Linked DNA regions of Homo sapiens. The protein of the gene in region 1 interacts with the protein of each later gene in a pairwise test. Each region holds a gene or a part of one and is shown in the gene's direction. Other genes may lie near its edges.

The links. The genes of interacting proteins can lie anywhere in the genome.
Region 2: the proteins of HIPK3 (region 1) and MTMR4 interact in a two-hybrid assay, tested with the Homo sapiens proteins (one large-scale study listed by BioGRID and IntAct).
Region 3: the proteins of HIPK3 (region 1) and ZNF107 interact in a two-hybrid assay, tested with the Homo sapiens proteins (one large-scale study listed by BioGRID and IntAct).
Region 4: the proteins of HIPK3 (region 1) and HEYL interact in a two-hybrid assay, tested with the Homo sapiens proteins (one large-scale study listed by BioGRID and IntAct).

Annotation. Positions count from the first base shown.
Region 1 is NC_000011.10:33,354,452-33,357,523, forward strand, and holds the end of HIPK3 (homeodomain-interacting protein kinase 3), read left to right. Parts: 3' UTR 1-2,572; downstream 2,573-3,072. UniProt on the Homo sapiens protein: Serine/threonine-protein kinase involved in transcription regulation, apoptosis and steroidogenic gene expression. Phosphorylates JUN and RUNX2. Seems to negatively regulate apoptosis by promoting FADD phosphorylation.
Region 2 is NC_000017.11:58,494,139-58,497,638, reverse strand, and holds part of MTMR4 (phosphatidylinositol-3,5-bisphosphate 3-phosphatase MTMR4), read left to right. Parts: intron 1-1,308; coding exon 1,309-2,707; intron 2,708-3,500. UniProt on the Homo sapiens protein: Lipid phosphatase that specifically dephosphorylates the D-3 position of phosphatidylinositol 3-phosphate and phosphatidylinositol 3,5-bisphosphate, generating phosphatidylinositol and phosphatidylinositol 5-phosphate.
Region 3 is NC_000007.14:64,664,915-64,668,932, forward strand, and holds the start of ZNF107 (zinc finger protein 107), read left to right. Parts: upstream 1-1,218; 5' UTR 1,219-1,368; coding exon 1,369-1,371; intron 1,372-4,018. UniProt on the Homo sapiens protein: May be involved in transcriptional regulation.
Region 4 is NC_000001.11:39,633,144-39,636,643, reverse strand, and holds part of HEYL (hairy/enhancer-of-split related with YRPW motif-like protein), read left to right. Parts: intron 1-3,500. UniProt on the Homo sapiens protein: Downstream effector of Notch signaling which may be required for cardiovascular development. Transcriptional repressor which binds preferentially to the canonical E box sequence 5'-CACGTG-3'.

The DNA of each region.
Region 1 (3,072 bases):
CAATACAATCTAAGTTTATTTTGAGAGTGTTTGCTGTATAATTGGACTTAATAAAATGTTTAGAGGTACAGTAGGCATGACTTTGGGTAGATAATAAAATGCAAAATGCTCATTGATTCATGATGTGGTTTTATCTTAGCTTGGGCAAACCATGCAGTATTTAATAAATAGTAGCAGAACTTTTACTATTGAAGCTTGAAAAGATGTGAGTTCTTTGTGTGCAATTTTTGATTTATGCATGTGAGAGGGTTTTTTTTTTTTTTAAGTATTTTTACATTGCAGTACTTGTTTTGCTTGTTGGTGATGTTTGCTTATTTAATACATTCCGTCAGGGACAGAAATTACATGCTTTTTTTTCTTTCTAGGAAGTGTGTTGAGTTCCCCCCTTCCCCGACATTTTTTTCTTTTTTGGGTGGTGGTGATGGTAGTGGTTATGTCTGTTTAAATGAAGTTGCTTTTACAGCACCAAAGACTTAATCATCCATTTCCTATATAAAGGTAGCTACTTTTTGCATAGACCTCAAGTATATTGTAGTGTAAAGGTGGAATTTAAGGAAAGGTATTAAATTGAGGCTGTGTTTTAGCTTACAGGCAAGTAATAAATTGTATCATTTATCTTGAATGTATCATAGATAAGCTGCTATATAACGATTGCCACTTCAGATAGCTGTGAAATTAGGTGATTAACTAGTTGTTATTTAGCCTTCTAATTTCTGTATAAGTCTAATTACATGAATAGAAATTGGGGTTTTGATTTTTTACTTTGCTTTTCTGTTTGGAGTGTCATTGTAACTACTGTATTGTAAATGGTGGAAAATAATTGCATTTGTTACTTTGGGGTGTGTTATTTGCATCAGTATTTTATCTCTATTAATGTTTGTGCTCATCACTGCATATTAAAAAAACTTGGATGTATCAGTGTAACTTAATTTTTTATTTTCATACTGGCATTGTAGACACTTGAGAAAGCTGTATCTTGCAGGCTTGACTTAACTTTTTTCCTTAAAAATCTGGAATATAATCTTACAGCATTTACTGGAATAAACAGTACAAAGCATTGGAGTGTAAAACTCTAGATGTTTTGGATTTACAGCGTTTCTTTGATAAATGAATTGTATACCACTAGTACAGCTCTAGTACAGCGTTCACAATAAGCTAATAATGGATAAGTTTTCTTCACTCCATTAACACAAGCAGTGTTTTATTTAATAATCATCAATGAAATAAATGTGCCTGAAATTGATTTTAAAAATTACAGTATTAGATCATAAAGTAAAAACCAGCAGTACATTTTTAGTCACACTGAAAATGAAGGACTTAATTTTCCCCACAAGTTTCAGTGTTTTTAGTAATTAATTCTATGCATTTTATACAAATAGAAATATATATATATAAAAAATTAAATGTTTAAAAAGGAGTAGCCTAAGATTAATTTAAAAGATTATTTACAGATGACACATTTATGGGGTCACTATTTAAGTAAATTTGCTGCCCTCCACAGCCTTCTAATTTTATTTATATGTTCCAGCAGATTATTAGGATCTGCTTACTTCTTAGGAAAGAATCAATGCTGGCAACACATTGTTTCAGAAACACCAAGTGCAAAGGATTGATTGTATCACAACAGGTACAAAACTGACAGAGTTTTCTTTTTGTTTAGGGCCATGTTTACTACCCTGAAATGTTGTATTTTTTGTCTTTAATTTCCAAGACTTAAAGCAGTCTTGTTAAATTGACATAAATGGTAAACTTCAACATTTTCATAATACAGTATTAATGTTTGATAAAGGTATATCCCAGTTAACTACACTGCTCTTTAATTGCAATCATGGGCATTTTAATGTATTTTAAAATAAATTTCAAAATTCTGCTAAATTCTTAATTTAGCATATTGACAAAGTAATCTGGATTTATACCTTTTAAAAACCATTTTGACCAGTTTTCTTCGGTTTTAATGCTTTCTTAAATAAAACACTGCATGATTTCCAAGTTGCATATTTGCATACTATTTTAATTTGCAAAATGTTTTTTAAATCAAATATCCTGATATTTAGTTGTTTTTTTTTTCCTCCAGCGTGTTTAATTAAATATGTTACTGTATTAGCAAAACATTTTCATTTTTAAAATCTGCTAATTTTAAACTTGGACTGTGTTAAGTAAAAGTTAAATCATACACTGCAAGGTGTAGGAAGATTTGTTTTAATGAATCCAATGATACAGATTTGATTACTAAGTTTGAACTGTTAATTGTTTAACAATTTTAGACTTGTGGCTTTCTTTCTTTGGTTTATTTGTTTTTGCTTTTACTCCTATGCTACACTAGTTTGCCATGTAGCAATTGCACTGTGCAATATTACAATAAGGACTGGGAAAATTTTATGGATGTAATGTCTATTACGGTTTGCGATAGTATTTCTCTCTAGTTCTCAGTGATTTAAATGTGACCAAGCCTTCTGTACTTTGTCACAAAAAGCGGGTTTTCCAGGTGACTATTTTGGTGAGTGTCAAAATAAGAATTTATGGTGTATTACTGTCGATTCACTTTGAATTAAAATATATATATTGCAGCAAACAGCTTGTTGACTTTTTTTCCACCCCAATACTCCTTACAGGGTAGGGAAGGGAGAGGTTAACAATATTGAGTATCTATTAATAACTTACATCATCTTATTTAACTCTCAAAGCCACCTTGTGAGATAGGTATTATTATCTTTGTTACACAAATGAGGGCATAGCTGCAGAATGTTTAGGGAACTTGCACAAAGTCACATTGTCAATGAGTTGGAATCTGAGATACACACCAGGATATCAAACCATAACTAATCTACTTTCTATCAGTTCTTTTAAAACCGAAGTCTGAGGCAGTGTACCCGGACTACCTGCAACCATAAGATGACCCTGTCCCATTTTCCTTCAATATTAAGTTTCCGCAAATATTTTTTGAGAGAAATAATTTCTGTTCAATATGTGTGGATGAATAGGGAATTCACATGTATCTTTAATACTTAAAACATATGACTTCGAAAGAATGTGATTGTAGTAGGCCAGCTTACATCCTAAAATACCAACACC
Region 2 (3,500 bases), on another chromosome or scaffold:
GAGTCCTGCCTTCAGGACACTTCAGTAGAGGGAGTTAAACAAGTAAACAATAAAGTGCAATAATGTGTTATAGGAAGCACTGAGCAATGTGCTTTGATGTGGATTCTTTTGTTTAATCTTCATAATAGCTTTAAGAGCTAGGTACTTTACCTTTATTCCATAGATGAGGGATCTGAGGCGTAGAGAAGTTAAAGTCACACAGCAAAGATGTTGTTAAATTGGGATTTGAACCCTGCCTATGGGACTCCAGGAACTATAATGATAACCACTGTTATTGCCTTCCTGGAATTTCGTACCATTAAAAAAATCAAAATTCGTCACAAAAGGTATATCAAGTATGTATAAAACATTTGTTTTAAGTTTCAAAAACCGATTACTTAAAATAAGCTGCGTTGTAACTGCCTTTGGGGAATTTTTCCGCATAGGCTGAACTGACTGAGCCATCTAAAAATAGGAGGCCAGTGAAGCCTCTACTGTTTCCCTGGTGAATTTCACTCAAGTTTTCATTGCTCTAAGGACTTTGAACTGCATTAATAATCAGGATGGTCACTCTTGAAAATGTCCCTTAACCTATCTGGTATATATGAATGCCTCTAGAACTCTGAGTGCTATATACTAGGGGAAGTTTCATGGGGCCTTGGGAAGCAGAGGAGCACACTGCTGCTAAGTGGTTATCAAGAGCAGTGTTGAGGGAGTTGTGTTGTCTTAATAAAGTTTGTGGTTATTATGTTTGTGGTTGGTTGCCTGTATTTTGAATTCTCATAGCATCTCTACAAGGTATGATTTATTATCATCATTGTATAAAGGGAGAAACCAAGTATCTGAGAGGTTAATTTACTTATTTGTAGTCATGTAGCTAATTAGCGTCAGAGCCAATATTGTCTAGCTCCAAAACCCATCTTCTTTCTGTTTTACTGTGATGGAGGCAGTGGGATATTGGGTTTGAGTCTCAGGTATAGTCCTAGCTGGAACAGTAGATTCAGAAGGCATTGGCATAGAAGGCAGCTGAAACCACTGTAGTGGTTGAGATTGCCCAGGGAGACTGGTAGGTTGAGTGCTGACAAAAGCTGAGGATAGATTTTTGGGTTCCGGAGGACACGGTCCATGTCTCATGCTTTTTTTACAGAGTAAACTTTCAGTGAACATTGGTTATTTGTGATCTTAAGGGTCCTTATTTCTAAACTTAAGTGTTCTTAAGTGTCATTATTTCTAAACTCTGGCTTTGATATTGCTCCATTGATTCAGTTCCATATATTGTATTGCAAGTGCCCATCTCCTGACCTGGAGGTGTTATATTTGTCTTTCCAGATTACCTAAAACCAGATCCATGGATGATCTTCTTTCTGCCTGTGACACAAGCAGCCCCCTGACTCGTACATCCAGTGACCCTAACCTGAATAACCACTGTCAGGAGGTCAGGGTAGGCCTGGAGCCCTGGCACAGCAATCCTGAGGGATCAGAGACAAGCTTTGTGGACTCTGGGGTAGGAGGGCCTCAGCAAACTGTAGGAGAAGTGGGTCTTCCTCCTCCTCTGCCCAGCAGCCAGAAAGACTACTTGAGCAATAAACCTTTCAAGAGTCACAAAAGCTGTTCTCCAAGTTACAAACTGCTTAATACCGCAGTGCCTCGGGAAATGAAGAGCAACACCTCTGATCCTGAGATCAAAGTCCTAGAAGAGACTAAGGGACCAGCTCCAGACCCTTCTGCCCAGGATGAGCTGGGTAGGACTTTAGATGGCATAGGGGAGCCACCTGAACATTGTCCTGAAACAGAAGCTGTCAGTGCACTCTCCAAGGTCATTTCTAACAAGTGTGATGGAGTTTGTAATTTTCCTGAGTCTTCCCAGAACTCTCCTACAGGTACGCCCCAACAGGCCCAGCCAGACTCCATGCTAGGTGTGCCCTCCAAGTGTGTTCTTGATCACAGCCTCAGCACCGTTTGCAACCCACCGAGTGCTGCCTGCCAAACTCCTCTAGACCCAAGCACTGACTTCCTCAACCAAGATCCCTCAGGGTCTGTGGCAAGTATCTCCCACCAGGAACAACTGAGTTCTGTGCCGGATCTGACCCATGGGGAGGAAGACATTGGTAAAAGAGGAAATAATAGGAATGGGCAGTTATTGGAAAATCCTCGCTTTGGGAAAATGCCATTGGAATTGGTCCGGAAGCCAATTTCTCAGAGCCAGATCAGTGAGTTCTCTTTTCTAGGGTCCAACTGGGACAGCTTCCAAGGGATGGTGACTTCATTCCCAAGTGGGGAGGCCACCCCTCGGCGGCTGCTTTCCTATGGCTGTTGTAGCAAGAGGCCAAACAGTAAGCAGATGCGGGCCACAGGGCCCTGCTTTGGGGGCCAGTGGGCTCAGAGAGAAGGTGTGAAGTCACCTGTCTGTTCTAGTCATTCCAATGGACATTGTACTGGCCCAGGAGGAAAGAACCAGATGTGGTTGTCCAGTCATCCAAAGCAAGTCTCTAGCACAAAGCCCGTTCCACTGAACTGCCCTTCTCCAGTGCCTCCTCTGTATTTGGATGATGATGGACTCCCCTTTCCCACGGATGTGATCCAGCATAGGTTACGGCAAATCGAAGCAGGGTACAAACAAGAGGTGGAGCAGCTACGTCGACAGGTGCGTGAGCTTCAGATGAGGCTGGACATCCGTCACTGCTGTGCCCCTCCAGCAGAGCCCCCCATGGACTATGAGGATGATTTTGTAAGTAGTCACCAACTGCCATACACCCATTATTTACTCTGTTCATCCAGCCTTCCCTCCATTCAGCATTTATTCGTTGGGTACTTGCTGTGTGCCACTGAGTTAGGTGCCTGGGCTATAGGATGAAAAACAAGTAAGCAATTAGAATGATGTTTTTAAGTGCTATGATTGAGGAGGCATCAGGTGTTAGAGGGCTGGAGTGGAGTGAAACGTCAAGGAAGACTTTCTTGAGAAGGTAATGCTTGAGCTGAGTGCTGAAGAATGTGTGATACTTAGCCAGGTAGACAGTGAAAACAAAACACCATTTGCAGAAGCGTAGTGGCAATAGATACTCCAATGATATGGCTTAAAAAGATGGGACATGCGAGTATATATGTGTACATGCATGCATACACGCTTACACTGGGGCTATGAGAGACAGTCAAATAGGGTGGTGGGAGGTGACATTGGAGAATTAGGTGGAGATTACAAGGGTCAGGTTGAGTGCCCTTCTTGTTTGGATTTTACCCTTAAGGCAATAAAATTTTAGGCCAGTGCACAATATGATCAGAGTTGTAGTTTAAGAAAATGACTCTTGCAACAATGTACAATTTTTTTTTTTTTTTTTTTTTGAGACGGAGTCTCGCTCTGTCACCCAGGCTGGAGTGCAGTCGTGCAATCTCAGCTCACTGCAACCTCCGCCCTCCCGGGTTCACGCCATTCTCCTGCCTCAGCCTCCTGAGTAGCTGGGACTACAGGCGCCCGCCACCATGCCCAGCTAATTTTTTTTTTTTGTATTTTTAGTAGAGATGGG
Region 3 (4,018 bases), on another chromosome or scaffold:
TTGTTTTTCATACATCTAGTAGTTTTAATTATATACATATTAATTACATTAATTCTTAACAACCTTAGGTTATTTTATTCCTGCTGTCCTCTGCTCTTTTTATGGCCACGGTCTGTTCCACCTCAGAACTGAAGAGAGATGTTGGTAGGGAGAGGCTCTTCCCTCACCTCTGGCAGAAAAGGAATGTTCAGGCCCTTCAAACCCCTGTTGTCAAAGCTGCACTTTAATGTGACAGCTATTGGCCATGTATGGCTACTGGGTGTCCGGAATGTGGCTGGTCAGAACTGCGATGTGCTAGAAAGGTAAAATACAGAGTTAAAGATTTAGTTCCAAAAATATACACACTTTATTAATAATTACATATTGCTCAGATATTAATATAATATTTTTGATATAGTGGGTTAATTAAATGGTTAGAATGAATTCCACCTGTTTCTTCTTCCTTCCTTTTTTTTTTTTTTTTTTTTTGAGACGGAGTCTCACTCCGTCGTCCAGGCTGGAGTGCAGTGGCACTATCTCGGTTCACTGCAAGCTCTGCCTCCTGGGTTCACACCATTCTCCTGCCTCAGCCTCCCGAGTAGCTGGGACTACAGGCCCCCGCCACCGCGCCGGGCTAATTTTTTGTATTTTTAGTAGAGACGGGGTTTCACCGTGTTAGCCAGGATGGTCTCGATCTCCTGACCTCGTGATCCGCCCACCACGGCCTCCCAAAGTGCTGGGATTACAGGCGTGAGCCACCGCGCCTGGCCTTCTTCTTCCTTCTTGAAGTTTGACTGCTAGAAAATTTAGAATACACATGTGGCTCACGTTTTATTTCAGAGGATTGCCTCCTTTTTAAACTCTCAATCGGCCTGCTCAAAGGACCAGAATTCAGAAAGGGCATAAAATCTGGAATTTTAAAATAATTGTTATATTATTTTCATGTGTGAATAGCCACATAATATATTATTTATAAATGCATATGACTTTATATACAGGTTAAATGCAAATGCCTTCTGGGGTGGACCTGGCTCAACTCAGGGAGGAGCCCTGCCTGAAAAGGCTGCAGCTTAGGTTTCACTTTATCTTCTTCCAGCCCAGCATCTGAGCACAGCTTCTGTCACTCAGGGCCTGAGGGAGCAGGGCAGCAAACGTTATCCAATCAGGACTGCTGGGCTGGGAACCGTCCAATCAGGCACGCAGCTGGAGCGGACAGGACGGCTTCCGGGATTTGGCGGGGCCTTTGTCTCTGGCTGCAGCCGGAGCTCCTGCTCTCCTCCTCACTGCTCAGTGTCCTCTGCTCCTAGAGGCCCAGCCTCTGTGTCCCTGTGACCTGCAGATATTGGGAGATCCACAGCTAAGACGCCGGGACTCCCTGGAAACCTAGAAATGGTGAGAGTGCTGGGTCCGACATCCCGAGAGAGGGGGAGGGGCTGGTTGGAACCGATCGGAAGTGGCTGTGGCTGGACTCGGGCCTCCAAAGTCCGCGGCCCCAAGTTCTCCTTGGCGCAGCTCGGCCCTCAGTCCCCCGCGGCCCCGAGTTCTCCTTGGCGCAGCTCGGTCCTCAGTCCCCTTCAGCCGTAAGATGGCGGCTGGGCTGACAGCCGGGACCCTGGGCGTCCTGTCTCCTCCCTGCTCAGTGACTGTGCCCTGGCCTGGAGCCCTCTCCGGGCGGCTTTGCACCCGCAGCGCGGCATCTCTCCCCGATTGTGCAGGGATGCCGGGAGGGTCATCAGGGGAGAATCCTGACTCGGGATGCGGGGTTCATGAATGGGAAAAGCTTTAGTCTGTGGGGTTCCTAGTCCATCTTTTTTCTCTTAAAAATCTATGGAAGTCACCACAAAAATGTTAAAGAATTTAATCAAAGAGTAATTGAAGAATTATAGAGCACCCAGCTGTGGTTTGTAGTTTATTTTCCATGGGAGGGGCTTGAAGAAAAGACTTTTAGAAGGTGCATGATAAAGGAAAGCAAACTCAATAATTGGTTAGGTAGAGTTACGTAGTTTCTTAGTTTTAGATGAAGGTGGAAATTTTCTGGTCACGTAATCAGAGCTTAATTGGCAGTTCATGGTTGATTAAGTCTAAATTTTGTTTTCCCCAATGTAGTAATTTACAAAAAAAAAGCATTTGAGTTAGATTTTTTAAAAAGTAAAAACCCTGGGACTAGAGCCACCTCAGTCTAATTGCCTGCCATTTAGTTATTTTCACACTCCACAGGGGACAGATTTTCCCCTGCAACTTTCACGTGTCTCAAGCAGGGTCTCAAGACTACTCCCTATTCCCCATTCTTTTAGCCTAACTGACTTTCAGTAAAATGCTAAATTTCCAGTTTCCTTTGACATTCCCAAATCCCAGCTTCCCCTCCCTAATTCACATTATCAACTATTTGTCCTTTAGTGTACATTTTAGATACTGTATTTTAATTAATCATTGTTGACAAATTATTGGGTGGCACTTTAAACAAATTGTTTGCTGTTTGAAAATATTTCCAATGAGAAGAAAACAAAAAATAATCCCCTGACACTGTATTGTAAAAAAAAGTCTGTGCCTATTTTCCTTTTATCTTCCCTAGGCGCAGAGATCTTATCAGAATGTTTTTGGGTCAAGGTTTCCCTTTGGAAACTTTACAGGGTGATGTGTCCTCAGCCACCTTTCGGTTTTCTCCTGGTCCTGGGTTTCAGTACTGTCTGGGGATAAATCAAGATATCAACTGTGGCTGTGTATGCTAGAATCTCTAGTAAATTTCAGCTCCTGGCCTGGAATGGAACTCTGGGTATCTGGGAATGGGAGACAGAGGACAATCTGAGGTTGGAGTGTAGCCTCTCAAGGGAGCAGGTGGATGCCCTGGGGCTGAGAGGAATCTCCTGGTATACCCTTCCTTTGGAAAGCTAACCCTTTGAGGCATTAAGATTGTGTTCACTCAACCCGACTTCCATTTCTCAGAGGTACATTGCTGGTCAGCCAATCAGATGCTGGTATTGAGAGGAAAACTCAGAAATAATTTCTGCCCCCTGGATTCTCTAAGATTTGTGAAAGAAAAAATAGTATTCCAGAAGACAAAAAAAAAAAAAAATCAAACTTGACCCCAGTGAGATGGTACAAGAACTTGCAAAATGAAATGCACTTGGAGTAGTCACTGAGGCATAGGGCAGTGTCTACAGAGAGGGTGGTCATTGGGCACTTAAATGAGCAGGATGGGGTAGGAGAATCTAGTGTTTGGGTGGCCTGACTTGACACATGAGTCAGACACATCTGTTTTCTTTTTTTTTATTATTATTATACTTTAAGTTTTAGGGTACATGTGCATAACGTGCAGGTTTGTTACATATGTACACATGTGCCCTGTTGGTGTGCTGCACCCAGTAACTCGTCATTTAGCATTAGGTATATCTCCTAATGCTATCCCTCCCCCCTCCCCCCACCCCACAGCAGGCCCCAGTGTGTGATGTTCCCCTTCCTGTGTCCATGTGTTCTCATTGTTCAATTCCCACCTATAAGTGAGAACATGCGGTGTTTGGTTTTTTGTCCTTGCTGAGAACGATGGTTTCCAGCTTTATCCATGTCCCTGCAAAGGCCATGAACTCATCAGACACATCTGTTTTCTAATCAGCCCCGCCACTCCCTGGGTTTGTCACCTTGAAAAGATTTGTTCACTTATTTTGATTTCAGTTTTATAACTGTAACTTGCATTTTATTAGTATGATTTAAAAGTTAAGAAAATATTTACAGAGCATAAAAGAGGTGAGTTTCAGAGAAAAATAATATCTAATCATATATTCCATTTATTAAGAATTCTCATTTACCTTTTTCTTTCCCAGACTTAGTTTAGGAATTTACTCAGGTGTGTTTTTTATGGCTGGGTGATGTCCAACGGTATTCCAAGGCTTAGTTTTTAGAGTGCTAGCAGGGAAACAAAAAGGAAAAAAACCTCTCTTCCATTTTGACTGTAGAAAATGAATACATTTTTACAAGAAAATGTGGTAGATAATTGATGAGTTACATAGATTTATGAAAGCATCAGTTCCTCTTTTTGCAGGGT
Region 4 (3,500 bases), on another chromosome or scaffold:
CTGGCTCTGAGATCTACATGACGGGATGATGTATATATGGGGTGCACTGGCAAAAGCCCCAGATTAAAAGCCACTAGAGGCCGGGCACGGTGGCTCACGCCTGTAATCCCAGCACTTTGGGAGGCTGAGGTGGGTGGATCACGAGGTCAAGAGATCGAGACCATCCTGGCTAATATGGTGAAACCCCATCTCTACTAAAAATACAAAAAATTAGCTGGGCATGGTGACACGTGCCTGTAGTCCCAGTTACTTGGAAGGCTGAGACAGGAGAATCACTTGAACCTGGGAGGCGGAGGTTGCAGTGAGCTGAGATTGTGCCACTGCACTCCAGCCTGGGTGACAGAGTAAGACTCTGTCTCAAAAAAGAAAAGAAAAAAAAAAAAAAGCTACTAGAGTAGACCTGGCTGTAGTTCCGATTTTCCTCTAATTTGCTGTGTGGCCTGGGGAAGATCCCTTCCCCTCTGAGTTTCCTTATTTTACAAATGGACTCAGTTCTCTCTGAGATTCCTTCATTTGGGACATTGTGATTCTGCCTTTGGCTGACACAAAATGATTAGGGTCATCTGCAAGGGTTCCACGGGGGAGTTCCCAGGGGAAGTCAGCACTGAGGGTGGTCAGGACCACCTGGAAAGCTTCCCCCCATAAGAGACCGCCCCAGAATTCTGGCTAGGAGCCACTAGAGGCCTATGGAGCAGATCTTGATGGTCAACATATCTTCTCTGGGTCCATGAAAATCTGTGTCATTTTCAGATTCTCAGACAAGAGAATCCCACACCTCATCCCACTGTCAGGGCCAGATCGCGGGCTGGAAGGGAGCTCTGGCTGGGCTCTTGGGAACTTTAAAAATAAGGGGACCGGAGGGCTATTCAGACAGACAGGAAGTAGGAATTAGAAGGGAAAAAATGCTGAAGCGGAGCCAGAAGATGCGGATTCCCTGCTGGCTTTGCTCCTTAGCAGCTGGGTAGGCTGGGCAACCTGCTTTAGCTCCCTGAAGCTCAGCAACCTCATCTGTAATATGGGCTTTTGTAAGGCTCAAAGGAGGGAAAGACATATAATGTTGCCAAGAAAACTGTAATGTGAGGTTTGCCTCTGAGATATGGGAAGAGGAGAAGGGGGGAAATAATACGACAGGGACAAGCTGACCAGGAGATTGGAAAAAGGAATGGCAGCACTGCTTTGCCCTGAAATGGGTGCGTCAGCCTCCAACAGATGGTCCCAGCGGAGGGATCAGGCTGAGAGGCAGTGACGTGTGCAAGGCTAACCTAATACCCGGAAAGACGCTTTATCAAGCTGGGGGGAACAAAGGCCGTGTTTCTTAGTGTGTCTTGGCTCTTGGGGTTTGTCCCCAGTGAACCAGTGAGGCTTTGTAAACAAGCTGCCCCATAGATCTCAAGATCTGGCCTTACAAGCCCTGGACCTAGCTTGCTGGGTCCTCCCTCCCAGGAGCTATTATAGACCTCTTACCAGGTCGGCTTGTCCAGATGTTTGGGTGGGAGATATCCTTTTCCAGATGTGTCTGGACAAAGCCAGAGACATAGCAGTAGGATTTGACAAATGCTATCTGGTCTCTTCTGCAACCTTCTCTGAGCAGTTGATGAAAATGATCCAAATTCAAATGCCAAAAGGGTTGGGACCCTTGGGCTGGGACCCTTGTGTTAAGTCATATACGCCCCCATTCCACAAAGTCCTAGGCCATAGATTTTATGGTGCTTACATCTCTGTTCCCCAGTGATGCCAAAGACATGGGTGAGAGAAGAAAGCTCTACCATGAGTTCTGCTGTATTCCAAGCCCTTGCTGAGTACTGAAGCTGCAATAGTGAATGTAACAGACATGGTTCATGGCCTCATGGAGCTTATGGATTTGTTGGAGAGATAGACATCAATCAAATAACCATATAAATATAAAACAATGAACTGGCATAAATGCTGTGAAAGCAGGGTGCTAGGAGAGTATTGAGCAGGGGACACTAGTGGGAGGAGGAATGTTAGAAAAGGCTCCCCAGGGAGGTGCCATCTGAGTTGAGATCTGATGGGTTGTAGAAGTTATGGGGCAAAGGGACTGGGGCTTGGGGTGATGGGTGAACCAAAGATGGTGGACCTAGGCTAGGGGACAGTGCATGCAACTGAATGAAGGAGTTGGTGCATTCATAGGCTGGGGCATACAGAAGAAGACGGTTGAGTCTAGAGGGGTTGACAGGGGCCAGTTGGACCACCTGAAAGATGGTGGCCTTGATCTTAAAAAACATTGGGGCCAGCCATGGTGGCTCATGCCTGTAATCCCAGCACTTTGGGAGGCCAAGGCGGGCAGATCACCTGAGGTCAGGAGTTCAAGACCATCCTGGCCAACATGGTGAAACCCCGTCTCTACTAAAAATACAAAAATTAGCTGGACGTGGTGGTGGGTGCCTGTAATCCCAGCTATTTCGGAGGCTGAGGCAGGAGAATTACTTGAACCGGGTGGCGGAGGTTGTAGTGAGCCAAGATCATGCCAGTGCACTCCAGCCTGGGCAACAGAGTGAGACTACATCTAAAAAAAACCCAAAACAAACAAACAAAAGTTGGGGAGCCACTGAGGAGTTTTAAGTGAGTGATATGATCAGATTTCAATGATCACTCTGCCTGCAGTGTGGAGATAGGCTTGTAGAGAGTAAAAGAGGGTGTAAAAGGACCCAACAAGAAGCTCTTGCAGTCACCCAGATGAAAGATGATAAAGGCGTAGCATTGAGAGAAGTGGCGGAGAGGAAGAGGACAGACGTGAGATATATTTTAGACATAGCGTGGGCAGGTTTTGATGAGGTGGGGGTGAGGAGGAGGAGGAATCAAAGACAGCATCAGCTTTCCACCTTGCAGAACTGGGGTACCTTCACTGAGATGGGGAAACCCAGGGGCAGCAGGAGCAGGTGTGGGTGAAGGCCAGCTTGCAGATTCCTGTTCAGATGTGTGGCGTTGTGTCTTCTGAAACGGCAGGGGAGTCACCTTGTTTGTTGTTTGTTGGTGCAGTGTCTGCCCACTGGAGCTGAGTTGAGGAAGGGAAGGGCTGGGGTCTGGCTGAGTGCACCAGCACCCACCCAGGCCTGAATAGGGCCTTAGAAGTGTTGGCCAAATGAATGATGCCTCAGTGGACCCAGCGAATCCTCACCATTCTAAGAGAGCTTCTGAAGCAGAAAACCTGAAGAAGGGTTAGCAGTTGGGCTGGAGATTATTTTGGTCAGAGTCTGGGCAGGAAAAGCCCCCCCAGGGCTGAGCCTCTTCTCTGTAATGGGAGCTCCTGGGGTGTGAGCAAACATCCATCATTCAACCGGGGCGCAGAGGGAAGGCCCGGAGTGGGAGGAGAGGCCGAGGTTGGAGGGACGGGGCCTTCTGGGAGGCCAGGGCAGTGTCCCAGAGCATCCGAGAGGGGCCTGTGACCCAGATGCCGCCTCCCCTTCGCCCCCGGCCGCACCGCGTGGGAGGAGGCGGCAGCTGCAGGCGGGGCGGAGGGCGGGCGGCCGGCGCGCCCG